Regions from separate parts of the Homo sapiens genome. Here region 1 is linked to region 2. A link means that fine-mapping ties the variant in region 2 to the expression of a gene that starts in the linked region. Tissue or cell type: blood mononuclear cells. Region 2 holds a variant in brackets; the other region holds the start of a gene. All regions are shown on one strand. Distances are between the middles of the regions.

What was found. PIP is the estimated chance that this variant, and not a neighbour inherited with it, causes the effect.
Region 1: OXR1 starts here. The variant in region 2 is fine-mapped to the expression of OXR1 in blood mononuclear cells (TOPMed, PIP above 0.99).

Annotation. Positions count from the first base shown.
Region 1 is chr8:106,267,601-106,272,828 of GRCh38, forward strand. OXR1 (oxidation resistance 1) reads left to right here and starts at 2,590. Exons shown (of 17, transcript NM_001198533.2): 1 at 2,590-2,767. RefSeq lists silencers at 2,315-2,564, 2,585-2,944.
Region 2 is chr8:106,766,885-106,772,084 of GRCh38, forward strand. ABRA (actin binding Rho activating protein) reads right to left here and starts at 3,360. Exons shown (of 2, transcript NM_139166.5): 1 at 2,639-3,360. The coding sequence starts at 3,306. The variant T/A (reference allele first, on the strand shown) is at 1,924.

The sequences.
Region 1 (5,228 bases), 500 kb before region 2:
AGTCTATGAGTTTACTGGTTATCCATTATTTCCATCTTGCAAACATCCCCTATTCCTTCTTTTGCTAACCAAATACTTTTTTCCCTTTTGAGAATCTTTCATCCCCAAGAGGATGCAGGTGGTTGATTGTGTGAGCCAGGACAGCCAATAAGAGTACACCTTCAAAGATTGATCTGCTCAACAGAACAAGAGACTTGATTTCTTTGTAAGGTTACAAAATTTGTCAACTGTGTAGGGCTGGCACTATGGACATAATGTGAGGGGAATGAAACCAACACAGGAAGCAATGCCGAAAGCAAGTTAGAGAAAGAGAAAATCATATTCTTCCTAATGTTGTTAAGCCCAGGACAAGCCCTGCTATTTCTAGTACTTCTGAGTTACACGGGTCAATGCATTTTCTCTGCCTAAGTTAGAATTGCATCCCTGTCACTTGTTACTTCGAGTCCTCAATGCAGTACGTTTTTGAGCTACACTTTTCCATAGGACACCAAAGAGACTTTGAAATCAAGATTTTCCCTGTTTCATGATTATGGGTAGTGTGCATGCTGTAGCATGAAGATGTTCAGAGTGCCATACCACCTTAAGAATAATTACTGAAAGAGGAAGAATGAAAGCAACCAGGATGAAAGTAAAGTTTATTTTTCACCTTCCTTCACCACTGATAGAAAGGAATGATTTGTGTTGATAGTCTAAGGAAATTCACATTTTGATCTCCCAATGAATCACCTATGGAAAATTAGAAACATGATGTTGTCATTATAAAGTGGCCCTGGTCCTGCAGATAATATTTGCAGCTTCAGTAAAAAAGTAAAAGATCAAACCTTAATTGATTACTTATTTTGGGGTGCACATGGCACTAAATTGCAAGTGGGGATGGAAGGGCGCAAATATCTTAGGAGGGAGGACATCTTGACCCAAATAGACAGATTCCACTACAGTTCTATGAAAAAATCACATGTACATTACTTAGTAGGGTTAGCAAAGTCTAACTAATTTATAATACTGGGAAAACAAAGTAGCTTTATCACAGAGTCTGAACTGAGATAATTATAAAATACATACCTAGTCTATACATTGCTTGTAGAAGATTCTCAGTAAAATCTTTCTGATAGAATAAAAATTAAACGCTATCAGTTTCAACATAACAGAAAATTTAAGCTGCGAATGCTCGTAAAGAAATTAGGTAAAAATAATGGAGAACAAAACCCGCAATCGGCTTATCAATCGGCTTACTGTTGACACGCCACGCCACTCAGAATAGTATCTAATTTTCTTGATCCCTTATCTCAGGTAAAGCTATTGACTCGGGGAAATAGGTTATGCGGAAACCATGAAAGTTTCTAGTCTGGCCGACCCTAGGTTCAACACTCTATTATTCCAGACAAGCGATGAGCTCCTGTCGCTAAATTTCAACATCCCTGTCTGTCAAATGGGAATAATAATGATTCTCTCATTGGGTGGCTGTGAGAGGTGAGTGAAACAAGACGGAAATTTGACCCAGGAAATATCTGTACCTCTTACTTTAAAGAACAGAATTAAAAAATAATAATAAATGATCAGAAATTAAGGTAGAATAGAGTGAACACTAATAGCGGGAAATAGCTAATTTGCAGGTGAGGTGGCTGAAAGGCTCCTACGCTTGAAGTGTTTGCTGGATGCACAGGAGATCTGGGATACATCCCGAACTCGGCAACAGGACCAGCTCCTTTCCTCAGGGTTACAGAACAGCCAGGTTCCAGTTCAGGTCTGGGAATCTACCCATCCAGAGTTTGCGCCCTTTTCGTTTTGCAATTTAAAACCGGGTTGGAGGGGGAAGGAGTGAAGGCAGCATGCGGAGAAAGTAAATTACAGTTCAGGTGACAGGAACAAGAAAATCTCCAAGGTCAGGGTGGGGTGTCAACGAATTATGCAAAACACTGCGGAATGAGGAGTCACAAACGCCTTGCAAAGAATTCTGAATTTTAGAAGCTCTTTGCAGAACCCCCTTCAGCCCGCTCCAAGCTGCCTTGGGTCCCTTTCTAGGCTGTCAGACTTCGCCTTCCTTTCCTCCTTGTTTTTCCCAGCAACCAAAGCATCTGAAGAACATTTTTTTCCTCCGTAAATCTGAACAAATTTCCTTGCAGCTTTCCTTGCAGAAGCTTTTTTATCGCTTTAACAAAACTTTCCTCTGCTTCTCTAGGGAGAGCCTAGTATTAGAGCTGCCCGACAGGCGGGACCCCGAAATCGGGGCAGCTCTGGCTTAGTCCAGGCTATTCGAGTGGGCGCCTGAACTGGAGGCGCCGTCTCCACCGGGATGGGGATCCTAGTGCAGGCAGACGCCTGGCAGGACTCGGCGAGCTGGGGTCCCCACCGCGGTAGCCAGAGCAGAAACCCGAACCCCAGCCAGAGGGGCCGCGCGCGGGGAGGGGTGCGCGCTAAGCCAGCGTGGCTTCCGCAGGAGCTATTTTTAGCGGTGCGTGCCTCCCCCCGCCCCCGGCGTGGTAGCCTCCGGCTCGCGGCGCCCCACGGCTCCTCTCAGTCTCCCCCGCCGCTGCCGGCTCTTGGTAGCTTCCACGCGGGCAGGTCCGGAAACTGAGCATGTCTGCAAGCGCTCAGCGGCGCCGGCAGCAGCGGGGCTAGAGCTGGGCTGCGTCAGGCTGAGCCCATTCACCTCGCGGCCACAGGAGCTCAGCGCCGGCGCCGCGCCGCCCAGCCCCGCCGAGAGGGGCGCACTCGCCGCCGCGGGGCCCGCCGCCGCTCACCGCAGCCCCCTCCTGGCGACCCGCAAGTAAGTTTGTGAGGCTGCTGGGCGTTAGGGCGAGGGCTTGGCGCCCGGGGGAGTCCAGGAGGGATAGCGAGAGGCGCGGCTGGCGCCCGGGAGAGCCGGCTGGCCTCTGCCCCCTGTGCCTGGCGCCTCTCCGAGCCACTTAGCCAATTTGAAAGCGGGTGGCCATTGGGATGCTCGAGCGGGGACGACGGGCAGAGCAGGAGGGCAGAACTAGCTCCAGCGGGGGCCCAGAGGGCGGACTTGGGAAGAAGGAAAGACCGCGCGGCGAGGGAGGAGACCGGGCGGCGAGGGAGGAGACCGGGCGGGGAGGCTGGGTTTGGGGCGCGGGAGCCCGGCCAGGGACAGCCGCAGAAGGAAAGTGGGGGTGTCGCCGGGGGATAGAGTGGGAGCAGCGTGAGAGCAGTGTTGGGGGCGCAGAGTGGAGGGCAAGCGTGTCTTGAACAGAACGGCAGGAGGATGGGTGGAAAGTGGGGCGCGTGGAAAGCGGATTTGGACGAGAGCAAAGGACGCCGGTGGAAGGGACAGTGGGCTCCGGAGGGGCGAGTGGATTCGGATAATTTGGGGAATCAGTAAAAGGCTAGGGGGCACATCATGATGGAGTCAGCCTGGAATCTGTCTCCCGCTAGAGTACCCGAGGCCACATGTTGGGAACTGGCTGGGGAAAGGATGGATGTAGAAAGTGGCCTGGAGGGCCGACTGGAAAATCGCTGAGGGATTTGGGTGAAGAGGGGGGGAGCTGTGCAGTATCGGGCGGAGGAACTGGGCTGCTGGTAGGGCCTGAAAGGTTCAGGAGAGGGTTGGAGGCTTCCCCGTGCCGCCCCTTGAATAGTGATTTAGTACTGTTATCTGAGGTTCACTTTCACCCCTGGCTCCTCCTCCGTCTACTACCCGGCTTGGACGCACCTCGGCTCGCTGTAGGCGAGCTTTAGGAGATTTAAATAGACATTAGGCAGTGGGGAAGGTAGTCGTTTACGGGGGGAGCTGCTCGGGCTTCCGTTCAGTGGTTCCCGGCACGCTCAGGGTGCAGTGTAGGGTCTGAATGTGTGTATTGCGGGGGTAGGGGGAGTGGTGTCAGTTCTAGGCCACAGGAATTCGTGGTCTGGCCCCAGAGGTGCGGTGTTTTTGGCCGGGAAGTCAGGCAGAAGTCTGCAGCGTGCAACTCGCAGCGGGGCGTGTGTGTGCGTGTGTGCGCGCGCGTGTGCATGTTTCCGGCCCGGGGTCGCGTGTGTGGCTGCAGCCTGTCTCCGTGACAAGAAGATCCAGGGATCTACGGGCGGCACGGGGAAGGGATTAAGGGGAACATACTTCCCTACGTCTTTTCTGCCTCCTTTTCCCAGGGTAGCATTCTTTGCTTATCCAATGATGCCTCTTTCTAACCTCTCCCTCTCCACTTACATCCCAAACCTGATGCGGGTCTTCTCTGATTCGGCACTCTAAGGAGGACTCAGCCGCCGGCTGCGACCACCGTGGACTCCCTCTATGGAAGGGAATCCTGGGAGTCCCGGCCGTCAGAGGGGTTCCCAAATCCAAAGGGTCCATCTCCAAGGCGTCACTCCAGGGGTCCGCGGTTCACTTTGCTGCCCCTTGCAGGTGATGCTGTGATTGTTGCCTGCGGACTGGGAAGCACGATGGCTCCAAAAGGCCAGCGGGGCCGAGAAGCAGGGACAGAGACCAGCATTTAAGGGATCTCTGGTGGGGGCCTCCCTGGAGTTCTCCACATGTAAATATAGCGAAAAAAGAAAACACTACGTTACTAGAATAAACACGTCCTAAAATTTCTGTGCAAAAACACCTTTTTGAACAGCAAAGATTTCACCCACCAAAACAAGGAAGCAAGAAGCTTCCACAGTGTGCAGGATCCGAAACAGGACCGGCCCGGCGTTGGGTGAGAGTGGGGGAGGGGTTGTCGGCTTCTCCATCCAGCTTGCCATGTTCTGTCGTCGGTTTCACATTTTCAGAGAGACTTTACCAGATGCAGGAAATGAGGATGAAGGCAACTCTGGAAGGATGCAAAGAAGGGAGAGCAAGCACTGTACCTACTGTCTGCTGTCTAAGAGGGCTGGTCTCATAACTAAAAGGTCCAGTCCCTGAGATCTTGTGTGCAACCGTCAGAAATAGTTCAGGACATCAAATTGCACAGAGAAGATTCAGATGAAGGGAAACAAGAACTCTGTGGAAAACTGTTGGGGACAGTGGCACGAGTTGTCTTGCAAGGTGATGTCTGTCCCGTGGAGGGACACAAGAGCGAGGACAGCATGGTTCTAATGGCCAGGGCATGTCTTCTTATTCCATGTGACAGTGGCTGGCTGAGTTGCTAGTACGTTTTTGAAATATACCCTTTGAAATATGTTGATTATTCTGGACATCTGTAAGGTGGGAGATTTGAATAAAAAGACTTCTGCTGTCATTATTGGCTTTTATGGCTATGATTTTTTTCAGTCATTATTATAAATCATGTGAA
Region 2 (5,200 bases):
CAGGATTACCAAAGTAACCATGATTCAAATCTAATTGTCTCTTATTCCAAGCGTAGGCATTTCAACACATTAAGAAGGTGCCCATGTGCCAGCCTGATTTGGGGAACCCCAAGATGGGTCCTGTATCCCACTCCCCACTTTTAGGTGAGACAGTTTACTCAGAGCCAGAATGACTGAGTTCAAATTTCATGGGCTGTAAAATCTCATACAAATTCCCTAATATTTCTTCATCTCCTTTCTCCATCTATCAAAGAGGGATGATGATTATAACCTATCATATGAGGATATTGTGGGATTAAATAAATAAATATATGAAAAGTGCTTAGACAAGTGCCAAAGAATGTCTAGCTCTACTATGCATTCAGGATCGGTCCCAGCTGTCACCTCCTTACTTCTAGTTAATTTAAAATGTGCTGAGAGAAAGATCTTGTCATTGTGCCCCCTCAGTCTTTATTCTTTTGGACCCCGTTATTCCATTTCTAGCACACATGTCCCAAGATCCAAAAGGCCAGAGTTTGGAATATGGTTCCTCATGTTCGGATAGCATAGTTACTTCTGATCATGAACTCCTACATTAAGCACAAATCCAGACCTCTGAATGCATCCTCAAGACACTGCATGAAGGTTGGAACCATGTCTGGTTTTAAAACATTGCATTTGGAGTAGGGCACGTCTTAGCTTTGTCACTAATTTGCTGGGCAAACTTCCCCTCTGAGCTTTGGTGTTCTTATCCCTGAAATGAGTGAATAGCTACTCAAAGGATTATGAGAAGTGAAGCGACAAAGCATTTAAACACCTACAGCACACACTGAACACGTGACAGATTATTGTAATTACCCATTTGCCATTTTATTTTTCTTGAGAGCTGGCAGTGTAGTAGTTCTAATTCTTTCAAAACACCTTTACAGTCTCAAACTATAAGACAGCTCTTTAGGCCGCGTGCGGTGGCTCATGCATCCCAGGACTTTGGGAGGCCGAGGTGGGTGGATCACCTGAGGTCAGGAGTTCGAGACCAGCCTGGCTAACATGGTGAAACCCCATCTCTACTAAAAATACAAAAATTAGCTGGGCGTGGTGGTGTGCACCTGTAATCCCAGCTATTCAGGAGGCTGAGGCAGGAGAATCACTTGAACTCAGGAGATGGAGGTTGCAGTGAGCCGAGGTCGTGCCACTGTACTCCAGCCTGGGCAACAGAGTGAGACTTCATCTCAAAAAAAAAAAAAAAGGAACAGCTTTTTGTCAAATTAGGTAACAATTTTTTTCTTTATTTTCTTATTGTTTCATAAGACTTGAAAAACACACTTGCACATCAAACTGTCCCCAAAGGGAGTCAGTCTATAAATGTAATGACATCAGACATTTTTCTTATATTTTGATACCCTGGCATTGTGGAATAAGAAATCCTGACTTTCTACCATGTGGAGTTACTGTCTTGAAATAAAGCACGTGTTTCTTGTCTATATACATGTTTCAGTTTGAGTAAATGTGTATGTGAGTGTATGTATGTGTATTTACCATCTAGATATTTTAATTATTGCTGTATTTGTTTACAAATAGGACAAACTGTTTTTGAAAATTTGAAAAGTTGCAAAGTAACCAAATCTATGTGAATAATAATAGTTTTCGTGTATTGAGCATATGTGACAAGCTCTGTGTTTGGTAGCCCTAATCTCATTTACGTTTCCCAATACAATAGAACTTCTCCCAAAAGCTTACTGTTGCTGTCATTTTACAAATGAGGAAATCTGCTTTTTTTAATTTTTATGTGAAACAGAGTCTTGCTGTGTTGCCCAGGCTGGAGTACAGTGGCATGATCTTGGCTCACTCCGACATCAGCCTCATGGGTTAAAGCCATTCTCATGCCTCAGCCTCCCGGGTAGCTGGGATTACAGATGCACAACACTGTGCCTAGCTATTTTTGTG[T/A]GTTTTTTGGTAGATATGGGGTTTCACCAATGTTGGTCAGGCTGGTCTCAAACTCCTGGCCTCAAGTGATCCGCCCTCCTCAGCCTCCCAAAGTGCTGAGATTACAGGCTGAGCCACTGCGCCCAGCTGATGAAATCACCTTTAAAAATGACTAGTTAGGGGCAGAACTAGGATTTGAACTTGGGTCTGTCTGACTTCATTCAGAGCCTGCTTTCAAATTAGACAGCAGCCTCCACCTGTTTAGAGTCAGAGATTTGTATTCCATGGGTGTTATTGAAGCAGACGTATCTCCTGATAATAGCATAGACATTTGGGACAAGGTAAAAGTTTCCCCAATGAGTCTATCAGAAACCACTCTTATCTCTAAAGAAATAAGCCAATTTGTTACTCATTATAGAACTGACTTAAAGAATTCACGAAAAACAGGCTTCCCTCTCTGATGGCTTCATCTTTGTTGAGGCTAAGACTTGAGTGTTCAGTTCAAAACAAAAACGAGAAACAAAATAGCGCAGGCCCTGACCAAAAGGTCCATGTCTAAGGTTGGCACTGACCTTCAGCCCAGGGACATCCCTCCTCTACAGTACTCACTGCCTGTCCAGTCTTTGAGATTCTCACTCTAACCCTGGCAGGACTTCATCTGCTGCCTGGATTCCCAGACTTGGTTGGGGCTCAATAGTGATCCTGACACAAGGAGTGGGAGAATGCATTCACTTACTGGGAGGGCAAGGGGCGCTTGATCCTGACCACAGCCACCTGCACTCCATCCTGCTCGGGCCTCTCCTCAGCCTCTCCTCCATAGCCGCTGTCCTCTGTGTCTACGCTGTCACTCCTCCATGTGGGCTCCTCCTGCTCCATCACTCTCCAGCCCTTGGTTAGCTCAGACACCAGGTTGGCACATTTTCTCCTCCGCGTTGGGGAGCCGTGGCTGTGGAGGATTCTGTCAATGTCATTCTCTGGCTGCCCAGGTTCAAGCACACCAGCATCCCTCTCGTACCTGTGGCTGAGGTGGCTCACGTCCCCTCCTCTCTCATAAGTCTTGCTGACCACCGTTTTGGACACCTCTTTCTTTTTGATGTGAGAAACCTCAGGGGCTTTCTCTGAGCTTTGTCCATCTCCATGTCCTTCTGGCAGGCGGGGTGGCGACTTTGGGGCACTCTGAGCTTTCTGGTGTGAAGTAGGGGGTGTGATTGGTTTAGGAGCTTGAGGTGAGTCCTGGGTCCCTCCCGGCAGCCAGCCTGTAGGCTCCTGGGCCTGCCTGATGCTGTTCTCATTCGCCCACTGCTGCCAACCTCGGGCCAAGCTGATGACCAGGGTGGCTGTGCGTATCTTCCGGAGGGCGCTCTTGGCTGGGCCCTCCCCGCTTTCCTTTTCGCCCGGAGCCATGCTGCCCACCTGTCTTTCTCTGCTGATAGCCTGGACACTGGCTAAAATGAGTGTGGTCCAGTGGAGTGCCTGGGATTTAAATAGAAGCAGGGTGCGGGGTGGGAAGGAGAGCTTAGTGACGATGGAAACTATGTGAAGCATTTCTTGCCAAGATGTGGCGCCTTTGCCCTGATGGTGTTCTTTTTATAAATCATGACAGCTCCAGTTTCATCACGGCAGAGGGACATCTCTGCTGGTAAGGAACAGTGATATGCTCACTCTCTTCTCCAAGTGCCAGAGTGGAAATTACTAGATCAAGTCATGTGCTCAGCCTTACGTTTGTCTGACCTTAATATGGTCCTACCATTTATAGGTGCATACATATTATCCTGGGAACATTATAGGATTGTTCCCACTTAAACCCCAGCAGCCCTCAGTACAGCTCCTAATTAGTTCCACTTTATAGCTAAGTAAAATAAAATCTAACTTCCAGCAGCTAATAAAATATGAGATTCAAATCCATCTCTGTGTAATTCAAAGCGTGTGCCTCCTTTTATTCCAGTTATCAAAGATCCTAAGTTGCCTTTTTCTTTTTCATTCAACTCCATTAGAAATAGACCTTAGAAAATCAACTCATCCAATCTTCATTTTCCAAATGAGAAAATTGAAGCCCAGATACGAGAAAGACCAAAGTCCAGATAGTCAAAGACTAATTACTTTCTAGTCCCAACTTTGAACTATTGTATAGATAACTCATATTAAAATACAAAAAGGGAGTCAAAATTTTGGTCCAATCATTAAAAAATGTTTTTAAAACCTGTATACACATTGGATTTTAGAAATTATTATTGGAGGCCGGGCGAGGTGGCTCACGCCTGTAATCCCAGCACTTTGGGAGGCCGAGGCGGGCAGATCACGAGGTCAGGAGATCGAGACCATCCTGGCTAACATGGTGAAACCCCGTCTCTACTAAAAATACAAAAAATTAGCCGGGCGTAGTGGCGGGCGCCTGTAGTCCCAGCTACTCGGGAGGCTGAGGCAGAAGAATCCTGTGAACCCGGGAGGCGGAGCTTGCAGTGAGCGGAGATCGAGCCACTGCACTCCAGCCTGGGTGACGAGCGAGACTCCGTCTCAAAAAAAAGAAAGAAAGAAAGAAAGAAATTATTGTTGGAATACATATTTTGAAATACTTTGTTTGAAAAGATCATCTAAGGACAGAATTCTAAGGACAGAATAAATGAAAGCTATCGGTAGCTCACTTCTTATCCCCATCCCGCCTACCCTTACCGTTTGGTTTGTGGTTGTTGTTTTGTTTTGTTTTTTGAGATAAGGTCTTGCTGTGTCCCCAGGCTGGAGTGCAGTGGTGTGATGATGGCTCACTGCAGCCTTGACCTCCTGTGCTCAATCAGTCCTCCTGCCTCAGTCTCCCAAGCAGCTGGGAATACAAGCATGAGCCACCATGCCTAGCTAATTGTTTTTGTTTTTGTTTTATATAGACGGAGTCTCGCTATGTTGCCCAGGCTGGTCTCAAACTCCTGAGCTTGTGCAGTCTTCCCACCTTGGCCTCCCAAAGTGCTGGGATGACAGATGTGAGCCCCCACGTCTGGCCCCTTTTGTTTTTAGTAACACAATCTTCCTTAGCAGGACTTTATGTTCATGTAGGCAAAGACAGTTTTTCAACTCTCACAAGAGGGACTGAAATATAATATTTTTTTAAAAGGACTGGAAAGACAAGCATGTGGACAGAAAGAGAAACATCTATGCAGTGTATTAAACCAGATAAAAATGTCCAGGGCTCAGCAATGAATAATTTCTTAAAGTAAGACGGAATTTTTTTTCATTCAACAGGTCTGTTGGCTTTAAAACTATATCCTTTCCTTCAGTCTTGCATGCAAGTAACCATACTGATTGAAAA